3 separate regions of the Homo sapiens genome follow, and all the other regions are linked to region 3. The links come from fine-mapping of genetic effects on gene expression. A gene starts in region 3. Each other region holds a variant in brackets. All regions are shown on one strand. Distances are from middle to middle.

Evidence for each region. PIP is the estimated chance that this variant, and not a neighbour inherited with it, causes the effect.
Region 1: its variant is the best candidate, but not a certain one, in a credible set for the expression of DDX46 in monocytes after R848 (Quach 2016, PIP 0.54).
Region 2: its variant is the best candidate, but not a certain one, in a credible set for the expression of DDX46 in whole blood (INTERVAL, PIP 0.70).

The regions. Positions count from the first base shown.
Region 1 is chr5:134,677,463-134,681,702 of GRCh38, forward strand. It overlaps SEC24A (SEC24 homolog A, COPII component), which reads left to right. Exons shown (of 23, transcript NM_021982.3): 8 at 2,140-2,266. Among named protein-coding and RNA genes, the nearest start is that of SEC24A, 31 kb to the left of the region's middle. The variant A/G (reference allele first, on the strand shown) is at 1,836.
Region 2 is chr5:134,945,544-134,949,783 of GRCh38, forward strand. The region is part of intron 2 of PCBD2 (pterin-4 alpha-carbinolamine dehydratase 2); the gene reads left to right. Among named protein-coding and RNA genes, the nearest start is that of CATSPER3, 20 kb to the right of the region's middle. The variant G/GT (reference allele first, on the strand shown) is at 2,232.
Region 3 is chr5:134,756,781-134,761,020 of GRCh38, forward strand. It overlaps DDX46 (DEAD-box helicase 46), which reads left to right and starts at 1,999. Exons shown (of 23, transcript NM_001300860.2): 1 at 1,999-2,175. The coding sequence starts at 2,159. RefSeq lists an enhancer at 1,774-2,263.

The DNA of each region.
Region 1 (4,240 bases), 79 kb before region 3:
TATTGATTTTTTTTTTTTTTTTTAAGAAGCAGAGTCTTAACTGCATTGCCCAGGATTGGGTATGAGATCCTTATCTTAAAAAAAAAAAATAAAGGCCAGGTGCAGTGGCTCACACCTGTAATCCTAGCACTTTGGGAGGCTGAGGCGGGCAGATCACCTGAGGTCAGGAATTCAAGACCAGCCTGGCCAACGTGGTGAAACTCGTCTCTACCAGAAATAGAAAATTTAGCCAAGCATGGTGATGCACACCTATAATCCCAGCTACTGGGGAGGCTGAGGCAAGGGAATCGCTTGAACCCGGGAGGTGGAGGTTGCAGTGAGCCAAGATCCCACACTGTACTCCAGTCTGGGCAATAGAGTGAGACTGTCTCAAAAAAAAAAAAAAAGATAAATAAAACCTTTCTTTAAAGATGAGATGCTATGTCACTTTGTTGTCCAAGGCACTGGCTCTCAGTTAAGTTGATCAGTGTTCACCTGTCTCAGGGTTTCTGGTAAATCAAAACAAATCTCCCCAAATCTGATAGTCTTACAAAGACCCTTCCCACGTATTTACTGTTATTTATTTATTTATTTATTAGAGACCGGGTCTCTCGTTGTCACCCAGGTTAGAGTGCAGTTCCATGATCATAGCTCACTGCAGCCTTGAACTCTTGGGCTCAAGCAGTCCTCCTGCCTCAGCCTCCAGACAGAGTAAGTGGTACTGTAGGCATTGGCCACTATACCCAGCTAAGACTTTAGAACTTTTAATATGTAGGATAAACTTTAACTAGGAGTGTAATTCCAAAGTTTAACTGGTTATTTAAATTAACCTCACCTTACTTTATTATAGTTGAGAACTAAGTAAGCTTCTTAATGTAACATCAACAAACTTTGTAATAGTTTCATTGGTCATATATTTTAGAATGTTGATTTTTTTTTCTTTGCCATTTATGCCAAAAGTACATTGTAAATTTACCATCTTGGTTTTATTTTTTTAACTTATTATTTATTTATTTAAAAACTCTTTTTTTTTGGTAGAGATGGGCTGTTGCTGTGTTGCTCAGGTTGGTCTCTACCTCCCAGCCTCAAGTGATCCTCCTGCTTTGGCCTTCCAAAGCACTGGGATATATATATATATATTTTTTTAATTTATTTCCAAGATGGAGTCTTGCTCTGTTGCCCAGGCTGGAGTACAGTGGTGTAATCTTGGCTCACTGCAACCTCTGCCTCCCAGGGTTGAAGCAATTCTCCTGCCTCAGCCTCCTGAGTAGCTGGGATTATAGGCACCTGCCACTACGCCTAGCTAATTTTTGTATTTTTAGTATAGACGAGGTTTCACCACGTTGGCCAGGCTGGTCTTGAACTCCTGACCTCGCGTTCCACCCGCCTTGGCCTCCCAAAGTGCTGGGATTACAGGCATGAGCCACCACGCCCAGCCTATTTTTATTTTTAAAATAGAGACAGGGTCTTACTTTCTTGCCCAGGTTGGTCTCAAACTCCTGGCCTCAAGTAATCTTCCTGCCTTGGCCTCCCACCAGAGTGCTGGGATTTTAGACATAGGTGTTAGCCACTGTGCCTGGCCTGCTATTTTGGTTTTGCAATATGAGTGTTTAATGAGGAAAAAAATGGTTTTTACATTTTTATTTTATTTTATTTTTTGAGACTGGGTCTTGCTCTGTTGCCCATGTTGGAGTGCAGTGGCTCAGTCATGGCTCACTGCAGCCTTGACCTCCCAGGCTCAAGTGATGCTCCCACTTCAACCCAGCTCACCACACTGGGCTAATTTTTTAAATCTTTTGAGAGGGTCATGTTTCACTATGTTGCCCAGGCCGGTCTCAAACTCCTGGCCTCAAGCA[A/G]TCCTTCCGCCTTGGCTCCCAAAGTGCTGGAGTTACACATGTGAGCCACTGTCCCCAGCCAATAATTTTTTTTTTTAAGACAACTTTTAATGAGAATGGTCTTGGAGCAAAATAGTAGGGTTTAAAATTAATACATTTCAACTACATGGTTTTTGTGTATGGCAGTTTAGATACATCTTGTACTCTAAGTTTTCTCTAAAATGATAATATCCCAACAGTTATTTAGACAGGATGGATTCATGCTTATGTTTTCAACATGATGATTTTTGCCTTTAAAAATTTAATTCTGTTTTTTTTTTTCCAGCAATTGCCTGTGGTTACCTCCAGTACAATTGTGAGATGCCGTTCATGCAGGACGTACATCAATCCTTTCGTCAGCTTTCTTGATCAAAGGAGATGGAAGTGTAACTTATGTTATCGAGTCAATGATGGTATGGGATGCTTTTTTGAAACATTTAAACGTTTCTACTTGCATTGTAGGGAAATCAGATGATACAAATGCACAGTTAAAAAAAAAAAACCCTTTTATTTACCTCTAGTCAATCCTTCCACTCAGAGAAAACTACAGGTAACTTTTTTCTGTGCGTTTATATTTATAAATAAATTTAATTATTTATTTTTTAAGCAAAAAATAATGATAGTATTACATGGATATCCCATTTTTACATTGTATTGGGTATATAATAAGTGGTATATTTCATGGTATTACTTAAGCCAGGAATTTAAGAAACATTTTTATTTAGAAATTGTCCCACGCCTTTTCTCTAGGGTGAAAGAAAATAAGTCCACAGAATAGCTGCCCAATTCATTCACTGCTGAATGAAGGGAAGTAGGCAGTGCTAGAAGGTTAGTTGAATGTAGTTTTCTCAGTAATTGAGGAGGAGGAGATTTCTCTCAATAACTATGTCACAGTTTTTATTTGAGGACTATAATGTAATCAACAGGGTTCTGTTAGTATTAGAGAAGGAAGTGGGTATGCCAGTATCCACAGTGTCTATTTGAAAGATTTGAGAAATAGAGGAATATAAGAGTTTTGTTTTTGTTTTTGTTTTTGAGATGGAGTCTCACTCTGTTGCCCAGGCTTGAGTGCAGTGGCACGATCTTGGCTCACTGCAACCTCCGCCTCCCAGGTTCAAGCGATTCTCCTGCCTCAGCCTCCTGAGTAGCTGGAATTACAGGCATCCACCACCACGGCCGGCTAATTTTTATATTTTTAGTAGGGGTGGAGTTTCACCGTTTTGGCCAGGCTGGTCTAGAACTCCTGACCTCAAGTGATCTGCCCACCTCAGGCTCCCAAAGTGCTGGGATTAACAGGCATGAGCCACTGCACCCGGCCAAGAGTTTGTTTTTGTTTGTTTGTTTTTGAGACAGAGTCTGGCTCTGTCGCCAGGCTGGAGTGTAGTGGCATGATCTCAGCTCACTGAAACCTCTCTGCCTCCCAGGTTCAAGCAATTCTCCTGCCTCAGCCTCCCGAGAACACACCCAGCCCTGGCCAAGAGTTTTTAAAAACCAGTTTTATTGGATGGGCACGGTGGCTTACGCCTCTAATCTCAGCACTTTGGGAGGCCGAGGCGGTGGATCACCTGAGGTCAGGAGTTCGAGATCAGTGTGGCCAACACAGTGAAACCCCATCTTTACTAAAAATACAATAATTAGCCGGGTGTGGTGGCGGGCACCTATAATCCCAGCTACTCGGGAGGCTGAGGCAGGAGAATCGCTTGAACCCAGGAAGCAAAGGTTTCAGTGAGCCGAAATCGAGTCATTGCACTCCAGCCTGGGCGACAGAGCGAGACTCTGTCTCAAAAACAAACAAAACAGAGCCAGGTGCAGTGGCTCATGCCTGTAATCCCAACACTTTGGGAGGCTGAGGTGGGTGGATCACCTAAGGTCAGGAGTTTGAGACCAGCCTGGCCAATGTAGTGAAACCCCATCTTTACTAAAAATATAAAAAAATTAGCTGGGTGTGGTGGCGGGCACCTGTAATCCCAGCTACTCGGGAGGCTGAGGCAGGAGAATCGCTTGAACCCGGGAGGCGGAGGTTGCAGTGAACCGAGATTGCACCATTGCACTCCAGCCTTGGCAACAAGAGCAAAACTCCATCTCAAACAAACAAATAAAACAAAACAAAAAAACAGTTTTATTGTTTGTGTGTGTGTGTGTGTGTGTGTGTGTGTGTGTGTGTTTTGAGTATAGAAAAGTAAGGATAGGCTAAGAACTTTCTCTTGCACTGTAACAATTCTGAAAATGTACATGAAGTATTTAGTTACCTTTAAAATTTTTATGTGTAGGTGCTTTAATATACAAAATGAAATTATAATAAAAGTTGAAGCCCCTTTCATCTGCAAACCAGGCTATTTCCTGAACTATAGCTTAACCTTTAGAGTGCATAGGGATTTGAATTTCTA
Region 2 (4,240 bases), 190 kb after region 3:
TGACTTAAGAATTTATTATTTTAAATGTTTTCTCTCTTCATTGCTATTTTCTGAATTACTAGCATAATTTGTGAATTTTTGACACAGAGACTTAAAATTTTTCATTTATATTCAAGATTCAGCTAAGTTTGGCTACACAGAACAAATTTTCTAGATTTTAAAAAAGTGGCATAAAATTACTTTATGTATGATTCCAGCAAATTGGAACCGCTTCAGTGTCCCAAAGAAGCACATTTTCTGCGCAAAGCACTGTGCATTTTTGTGAGACCTCCTCACACCCAGTAGTGATGTTAAGAAGTAACAGAGCCTCAGATTTACAGAGTAGTAGAGGCAAGAGAGGTTTAGGATTTGCTGAAGGCCATAGAATGAGACATAGCTAGGATTAGCATTTTTCAGGATATAAGGATACCACCCACCAGACTTTGTCTTTGATACCAAAAATAGGGTTTAAGTGCTAAGCTTACTTTCCTTTCTTTGTGGCTATAAGCCCTGGTATTTTTCTTTAACAAATAATTAAAATTATTATTAAATAAATAAATATACTTAAATAAGATTGTTTAAAACAAAAACAAAAAATCCCTACTTTCCATCTATAAGGGTAGGAATGTTTCTCTCCTTAAGCCTACCCTTATAGGTTGGGTAGGCTTAAGGAGAGAAAAATAACAGGTTAAGGATAAATCCTGAATATATTTGTGGTTTCCTTCAGCTCGATGTCTGAAGATTCTCACAGGTTCAGGGACTATTCCAAGTTTGCAACCTGTGTGTGGATTTTGAAACAAATACAGACAACTTATGAGACGGTTTCTTTGCTGGGCTTCTTGCTTGACACAGTTTTCTGAAACATGGCTCTGGCAGGCTTTTTTCTTCCATGGACACATTGCTGCCGTTTATCACTGAAGTTCCTCTGTGGAGTTACCAGGAGCTAATATTTGGATGATGTACTTTTCTTGCAGAAAATATTAGCAAATGTTGCAGAAACTGTGCTTTAAAAACTTTTAAAAGGGGAATGGATTCCCAGTTTAAAAATAAGCAAAAGAAAGGATAAACATGATTTCATTGATGGTGTGCAACTGCTTTAGAACATCAGATATTTTGTGATGTGAAATGGGATGATACTCTATTTTACAAAATGTGTACTGCTTATAGAAAATGTATTTACTGTACCACTAAGCCAAACTTAGGTGTTGCTTTGTTTCCTTAAAATATTTTTTGAGTCGCTGTGGCTGCCCCACAGATGATGGGGGAGTAGGCATTCTTTCTGCCCAGAGCACTTGTTCTCTTCCTCCACCCTTTTGGTTGTTATTGTAGCATCTTGACTTTCAGCTTAACACATCCCAACTTAAGCAGAAGCCCTTTTGCCTTCTCTCTCTTTAAAACTAGATCCATAGAAATTATTTTTATTACAGTAATAGGGCAAGATAGTTTTATGTCATATATAAACTGGAATTATGTAGTGTTAGTAGTAGTTATGTCTCCTGAAAGGAACCAGTTGATTATAAAGAAGAAAAGTTAGGGAGTAGACTGTCATTTTGCATGCTATTAAAAAAAAAAATTTTTTTTTTTTTTGAGATGGAGTTTTGCTCTTGTTGCCCAGGCTGGAGTGCCATAGTGCGATAATGGCTCATTGCAATCCCTGCCTCCTGGGTTCAAGCGATTATCCTGCCTCAGCCTCCCGAGTAGCTGGGATTACAGGCATGTGCCACCACACTTGGCTAATTTTGTGTTTTTAGTAGAGACGGGGTTTACTCCATGTTGGTCAGGCTGGTCTCAAACCCCTGACCTCAGGTAATCTGCCTGCCTTGGTCTCCCAAAGTGCTGGGGTTACAGCCATCGCGCCCGGCCTCAATTTTTTTTTTTTTTTTTTTTTTGAGACGGAGTCTCGCTCTGTCACCCAGGCTGGAGTGCAGTGGCGCAGTCTTGGCTCACTGCAAGCTCCTGGGTTCATGCCATTCTCCTGCCTCAGCCTCCCGAGTAGGTGGCACTACAGGTGCCCACTACCACGCCTGGCTAATTTTTTGTATTTTTAGTAGAGACAGGGTTTCACCATGTTAGCCAGGATTGTCTTGATCTCCTGACCTTATGATCCACCCGCCTCGGCCTCCCAAAGTGCTGAGATTACAGATGTGAGCCACCGCGCTCGGCCCCCTGACCTCAATTTTTAAAAATATATTTGGGCAGGTACTTTGTGTATCTTAGTGGTTCGGAAGCACAAAGTTGAAGCCTATGAAGTC[G/GT]TTTTTTTTTTATATAAAGTAGAATTTCTTATAATTTTATAATGATGACAGTACCAAGGAGCTTAAATACAATTTTTAAAAGGATTGCTAAAACAAAACTAACTAAACTTTGGTAATCTTTGCAATACCTCTCACCTCATAAGACTCTGAAAGCCAACAAATAAGGATTATCAGCAGATTAGGGAAGAAAACCTCCAACAGGACTTTTCTGAGGCAGCTGATTGGCAATAATGAACAGCCCCAGTGAATTGCAAAGCATCACAAGTTATTTTGACACCAGGGAACTCTGGTAAGGGGCTTCTCTTGGGGTGGTTTTAAAACCAGTGCTTCTGTTTGCTTTAGGAGAAAAGAATGGGTAGAAAACTGGTGAAATGTGCTAATTCAAAACTGAAAGATTGTGAGAAATTTAAGAAAGAGCTAATCAGACTGGGCAATTGGTCTGCCCAATAGTAGCTGATGAAGATATGGCGAAATGAATTTAAACTTAGGTGCAGAGGAATTTGGAAACCGGTAGTGTCTCTTCAGGGAAAAGATACTCATAGCTAGTGATCACCTTGGCCAGAATGTCTTTTTGGTATACATCAGCTGTGTGAACTCTATCTAGTTAGAGAACTTTCACTAAAAATGAAACAGAAATGAAGGGCCTTTTGGTAAAATCGTGTGTAGAGTTTTTTTTTGTGGATGTAAACCCTGCCACCTGGAGAATAGTGGATTTATATTAATATACTCCTATCTAAGAGGAGTTTTCCTAGCCTGGGAATTCAGTAGAAATTTACTGATGTATTGAAAGTCCTAATTCTGCAAAAGAAAGTTGTTTTGCACCTTGCTTTTCATTTAACAGTATATGTTGAAGATGGTACCATGTCATTAGCTAAAGAGTTGCCATATTTTTTCAATTGGCTGTGTAGGCTATTATGGCAATTGCCAAGAATAGTGACTTGAAGCTTTTTTTTTTTTTTTTAAAAGGCTCTAAAATGCTACAGTATGAAAACAGCTTTTGAAAGCAGTGTTTAGAAGTGAGCATGCTATCTCACAGGTGTTGACCTGTTCAGTGACATTTAAAAAATGTACTTATTACCATGAGCTAAGGGGGACTCATTTCGTCTGGGGCCTGGAAGAGCAGGCAGCTTTTTCAGTAGCTTGTGGATGTTGTCTTCAGTGCCTGGAGAAGCCAGTTTTAATTTCATAGTTGGATATTCTTGGCCTGAGTTATTGGAAATGTTGAGCTCTGTGGCGGATCAAGTAGATGGCAAGTAGACTAGTGGCTTAGGATTGGTGGGAGTTGTGTCTGCCCCCAGACACACAAGGGACTGCACAGGGAATGGTCCTCAAGCAGGCCTTTAGCCCCACTTCCTCAGGGAGACATGAGTCACCTGCTTGGCTGAGATGCTCGCTGACAGATTGCCAGTTCCGCAAGGAAATCTTCCCGTGCCGACACCCACTCAGAGAAACAGTGCTAAAGATGTTTCTGGTTTTCTGAGCCTTGTAAAGGTGAATTTCTTTGGCCTTCAAATTGGTCTTCTGCTAGGTTTGGAAAGGAATTCTTCCTTTCCAGGCCACAGACACTATAATATCAAAGTGTTATTGATGATGATAATAATCACTAGCATTAACTGAGTTCTTAATAGAGTGCCAGGCATACTGTAAAGTATATTACATGAATTAGCTCCTTTTACGTATGGGGAAACTGAAACTCGTTTCAAAAGTTAAGTAACTTTTCTGAGGTCATATAGCTAGTGAATAGCAGAGCTAGGAACTGAACTTAGTTGACCAGTGTGCTAAAAATATGTCTGACAGTCCAGAGAAAAAAAGCATGGATTAAATACATCTTTGGTTGGATCTGTTCCTCACAGTTTAGTTGAGAATATTCTTGTGTTGCCTACAATTAAAATCTGACGTTTCCTTTGCAGCGGCTAGAACAGTTAACAGTGTTCCACGTGAAAGTCTTGGTGAGACATGTAATCATGTTCTGTGGCAAAGAATGCCTTTACTTGGTGCACTAGACAGTG
Region 3 (4,240 bases):
CTCCTTGGTGTCCATCCTGTCACTCATTAATTAGCTCAGGCCTTCTTACCCTTGGCATGGACTGCCAGAACCTCCAGTCTCTATCCCTCTTCAATGCTTCTCGCAGCTACCACAGGTGGGCAGCAAGCCACGGGGGGCGTGGGGAGCATAAACTCATCTTGGAGTGTCACTCGTTGGTTTGCTTTTTTTCTTTAATCAACTATGTTGAGGTAAAATTTACATACAATAAGTCATGTACAGTTAAAGGGTACAGTTCAGTGAATTTTGAAAAATGTGCAAATCTATTCAATGACCACTAAAATCAAGACACAGAACTTTTCCATCATCTTTAGGTGTAAGAAAGTAAAATAGTACAGAGGCAAGTAAAGTAAAAATATGAGCCTTTCTCCAACTCCATTATAGCTTTTTGCAAAAACAACTCAACATGGCCGGGCACGGTGGCTCATGCCTGTAATCCCAGCACTTTGGGAGGCCGAGGCGGGCAGGTCTCCTGAGGTCGAGAGTTCAAGACCAGCCTGACCAACATGGAGAAACCCCATCTCTACTAAAAATACAAAATAAGCTGGGGTGGTGGTGCATGCCTGTAATCCCAGCTACTTGGGAGGCTGAGGCAGGAGAATCGCTTGAACCCAGGAGGTGGAGGTTGTGGTGAGCTGAGCTCTCACCATTGCACTCCAGCCTGGGCAACAAAAGCGAAACTCCGTCTCAAAAAAAAAAAACAAAAAAAATTCAACATTTCTGTGTGTGTTGCATGAGACAATACATATACATTTTTTTGGTGCCCAAACTCTCGAATAATGTTCTCAATCTTGACTGTACTTCAGAATTACCTGGGAAGCTTAAAAATTCCCAGTGCACAAGAAGCACTCCAGGCCAATTAAATCAGAACATAGGGGTGGAACCCAGGCTTCTATTTTATTTACTAATATTTTAGAGATGAGATTTCTCTGTGCTACCCAGGCTGGAGTCATCATAGCTCACTGCAGCCTCAAACTCCTGGGCTCAAGTAATCTTCTTGCCTCAGCCTCCCTGGCTCAAATGATCCTCTCACCTCAGCCTCCCAAGTAGCTAGAACCACAGGCGTGCCAGCACACCTGGCTAATTATTTTGCTTATTTTTTGTAGAGGGTCTCGCTATGTTGCCCAGGTAGGTCTTGAATTCCTGGGCTCAAGCCATCCTCCTGCCTCGGCCTCCCAAAGTGCTGGGATTATAGGCATGAGCCACCATGGCTGGCCCTTTTTTTGTTTTTTTGTTTTATTTTTAAGCTTCCCAGTGCAAGCAATGTTGAGAACTAATCTTTTGCCAAAGTATTTTTAGCTCTTTGTTCTCTACTAGGTTAACACCTACCGGGTCTTCAAATCTCACCTCAGAGTTCACTTCCAAGGGAAACGTGTTTTCTGAATCCGTCTCCAATGGTGGACTCTCCTTGCTGTATTACTTCTGCTTGTGTTTTTAGTCAAGTCTATTATTATTACTATTTTCTTTGCAGAGACGAGGGCTACGTTGCCCAGGTCTTGAATTCCTGGGCTCAATAGATCCTCCCGCCTCAGCCTCCCAAAGTGCTGGGATTTCAGGCGTGAGCCACTGTGCTGGCTTTAGTCATCTGTTTCCCGGATAGACTGTGAGCTCCCCAGGATCTAGCACAAGCCTGGCATATGACAACATAAATAAATGAGTGAATGTATACATGAATAAAGAGCGTGTACGGAGAAAGTTGCCGCATTATTTAGCGCAAATTAAGGCAGACATCAGCCTGCCCAGGACGCCTCTTTGGCTCTGGCGCGAAACACCCTCACGGGCCGGCGAGGCTGACGCGCTGCGCTCCATCGCACTAATCAGCCGGGCGTGGTGCGGGCGCCGGGAAGACTGGGCGGGGCGAAGGCATCACCTTTCGATGGGGCCGGCGCTGTGCGTCCTCCAGTCGAGGTGGGGCGCTGTGGAAGAGCGGCAGCTTCCGGTCGGCTTTTCTCTTCCTTCGGCTGCCGGCGCCAGCACGTCCTGTTTTCGTTGGCCGCGCTGGGATGGCCGCCACAGCTGTAGGTGCTGCTAGTGTTTAGCGCTGGTCTTTGCCGGGCGTTGAGGGCAGCTCAGCCTCCTTGTTTGTCCGGTTCGCCTGTGCGTGGTACTCAAGGGCACCAGTATTCCCGCGGTCGGCAGCATGGGTCGGGAGTCACGGTGAGGCAGAGCGCCGAGCGGGCTAGCGGGCGAGCGGCTTCTTGGGGTCGTGAGAAGAGGCGGGAGTTGAGGTGGCCGCCGGGCCAGGCCTGGCGCGGCCCCACGTGCGGTCAGCGCTGCCCCGCGAGCATTGGAAGGGCTGGGGGACCTCGGCTGAGGGAATGGTTGTGTTTGGGCCAGCGACGGCTTCCCCTGCACTACCATCAGAGGGTTCGAGCCCCTGGAGCGGGAACAACCCTCCAGGACGTTAGTGATTGGGCACCACATCCCGCCACTTCAAGGGAGCCTGCCCTGATTACTTCAGTCAGAAGTGATCCCAGTTGGATTGCTTATTGCTTCGCGTTTCCAACATTTCCTCGACTCCTGTCATTCTGTATTTTAGTTCTTTGTGCGCGTATGATCTTTTCCCAAGTTACTTGAAAGGAGCGTGTGGGCAGACATTTTTACCGCATCGACAGCACTATACACGACTAGGCTTTTACTGGGCTACAATAAATACTTGTTGCGTGGGCATTTACTTCGCAAATAGATTTCGTATTTAAGCAGGTAACTTTGTTACCTGCTTTTCTGTCCTTTTGAAGTTGTGGACTATGAGCTCTTATTAGAACTCATTAGATCTCATCACAACTTTAGATTGTTGATAGATTGTTAGGAACCTTGAGATTTTTATGTTAAAAATGACTATTTGCTATGTATTTAGCAATGACTGAAAGATATTTTATGTCTAGGAACAATGAAGGCTTTTGTTGTTAGTGCTAACAGTTCTTTGTTGAGGTACAATTAACAATCAGGGAAATGGACAAAACGTAAGGGTAAAGCTTGATGAAATTTAGCAAATATATAAACCGTGTAATCATCACCTGGATGAAGATAAAAAATATTTCTTTAACTACAGAAAATTCCTGTGACGGTGTTTTAAATCTCCGGAAGGCTGTCCAGACCAGAAATCTGAAAGTGATATTTATTTGACTCATTCTTCTCTCTCACTACCCACAGCCTGTTAGATTCTACATCCTTTGCCCATTCTGGTTGTCCCTGACTTAATTGAGGCCCTAATTATTTATTGTCCAGACTACTACATCTGTTTTAAATTGATTCTCTGAATTGATTGTCTTCCTCTGTTGCTCTCCTAATTGTTAGATCCCTTACACTACAGCCAGAGTGACACTTCTGAAGTAGAGATAAGATGATGGCATGCCCCTGACTTAGTCTCCATTGGTTTCTACTGCTTCCAAGATGAAATTTAAACTCTATGACAGCCTTCAAGGCCCTTCACAAGAAGGTCCATTCTAGCCCGTCAGCCTTCTCCTTTACCTCTCTGGTGTGCATGGCCTGTGCTCTAGGTTTGTTCAGGGAATCATGAAAGGCTTAGAGGTGGGAAGGCGCAAGGTGTTAGAGAAATAGCTAAAAAGCCCAATTTTTCTGCATATGTAGGTTTCATGAAGGGATTTTATCTTTTTTGAGAAGTAGTAGGAGGTAGGTCCTGAATAGGACTTGGGCCCAGAAAGCGGGTGGATTGTAGATTTTGAAGATCAGAATTTGTTTGTGAACCTTTGAAGATTTTGAGTAAAAAGTGTGTAATAGAATCAGAATTCTCCTTAGCAGCAATGAGTAAGATTTAATGGAAAAGTAATAGAAACAGGAAGACTACAGTCTTTAAGAATCTCCTAGGTAGATATGTCTGATATAGAATAGTGACGGTTGGAACTCTGTGGAGGTGATATAATGTGAAGGGAATTACAGAGGTGAAATTGGTATTACTTGGTTGTTTTTTTGTTTTTGTTTTTGTTTTTGAGACAGAGTCTCGCTCTTTCGCCAGGCTGGAGTGCAGTGGTGGGATCTCGGCTCACTGCAAGCTCCGCCTCCAGGGTTCACGCCATTCTCCTGCCTCAGCCTCCCGAGTAGCTGGAACTACAGGCGCCTGCCACCGCGTCAGGCTAATTTTTGTATTTTTTAGTAGAGACGGGGTTTCACCGTGTTAGCCAGGGTGGTCTCGATCTCCTGACCTTGTGATCCACCCGCCTCGGCCTCCCAAAGTTCTGGGATTACAGGCGTGAGCCACCGC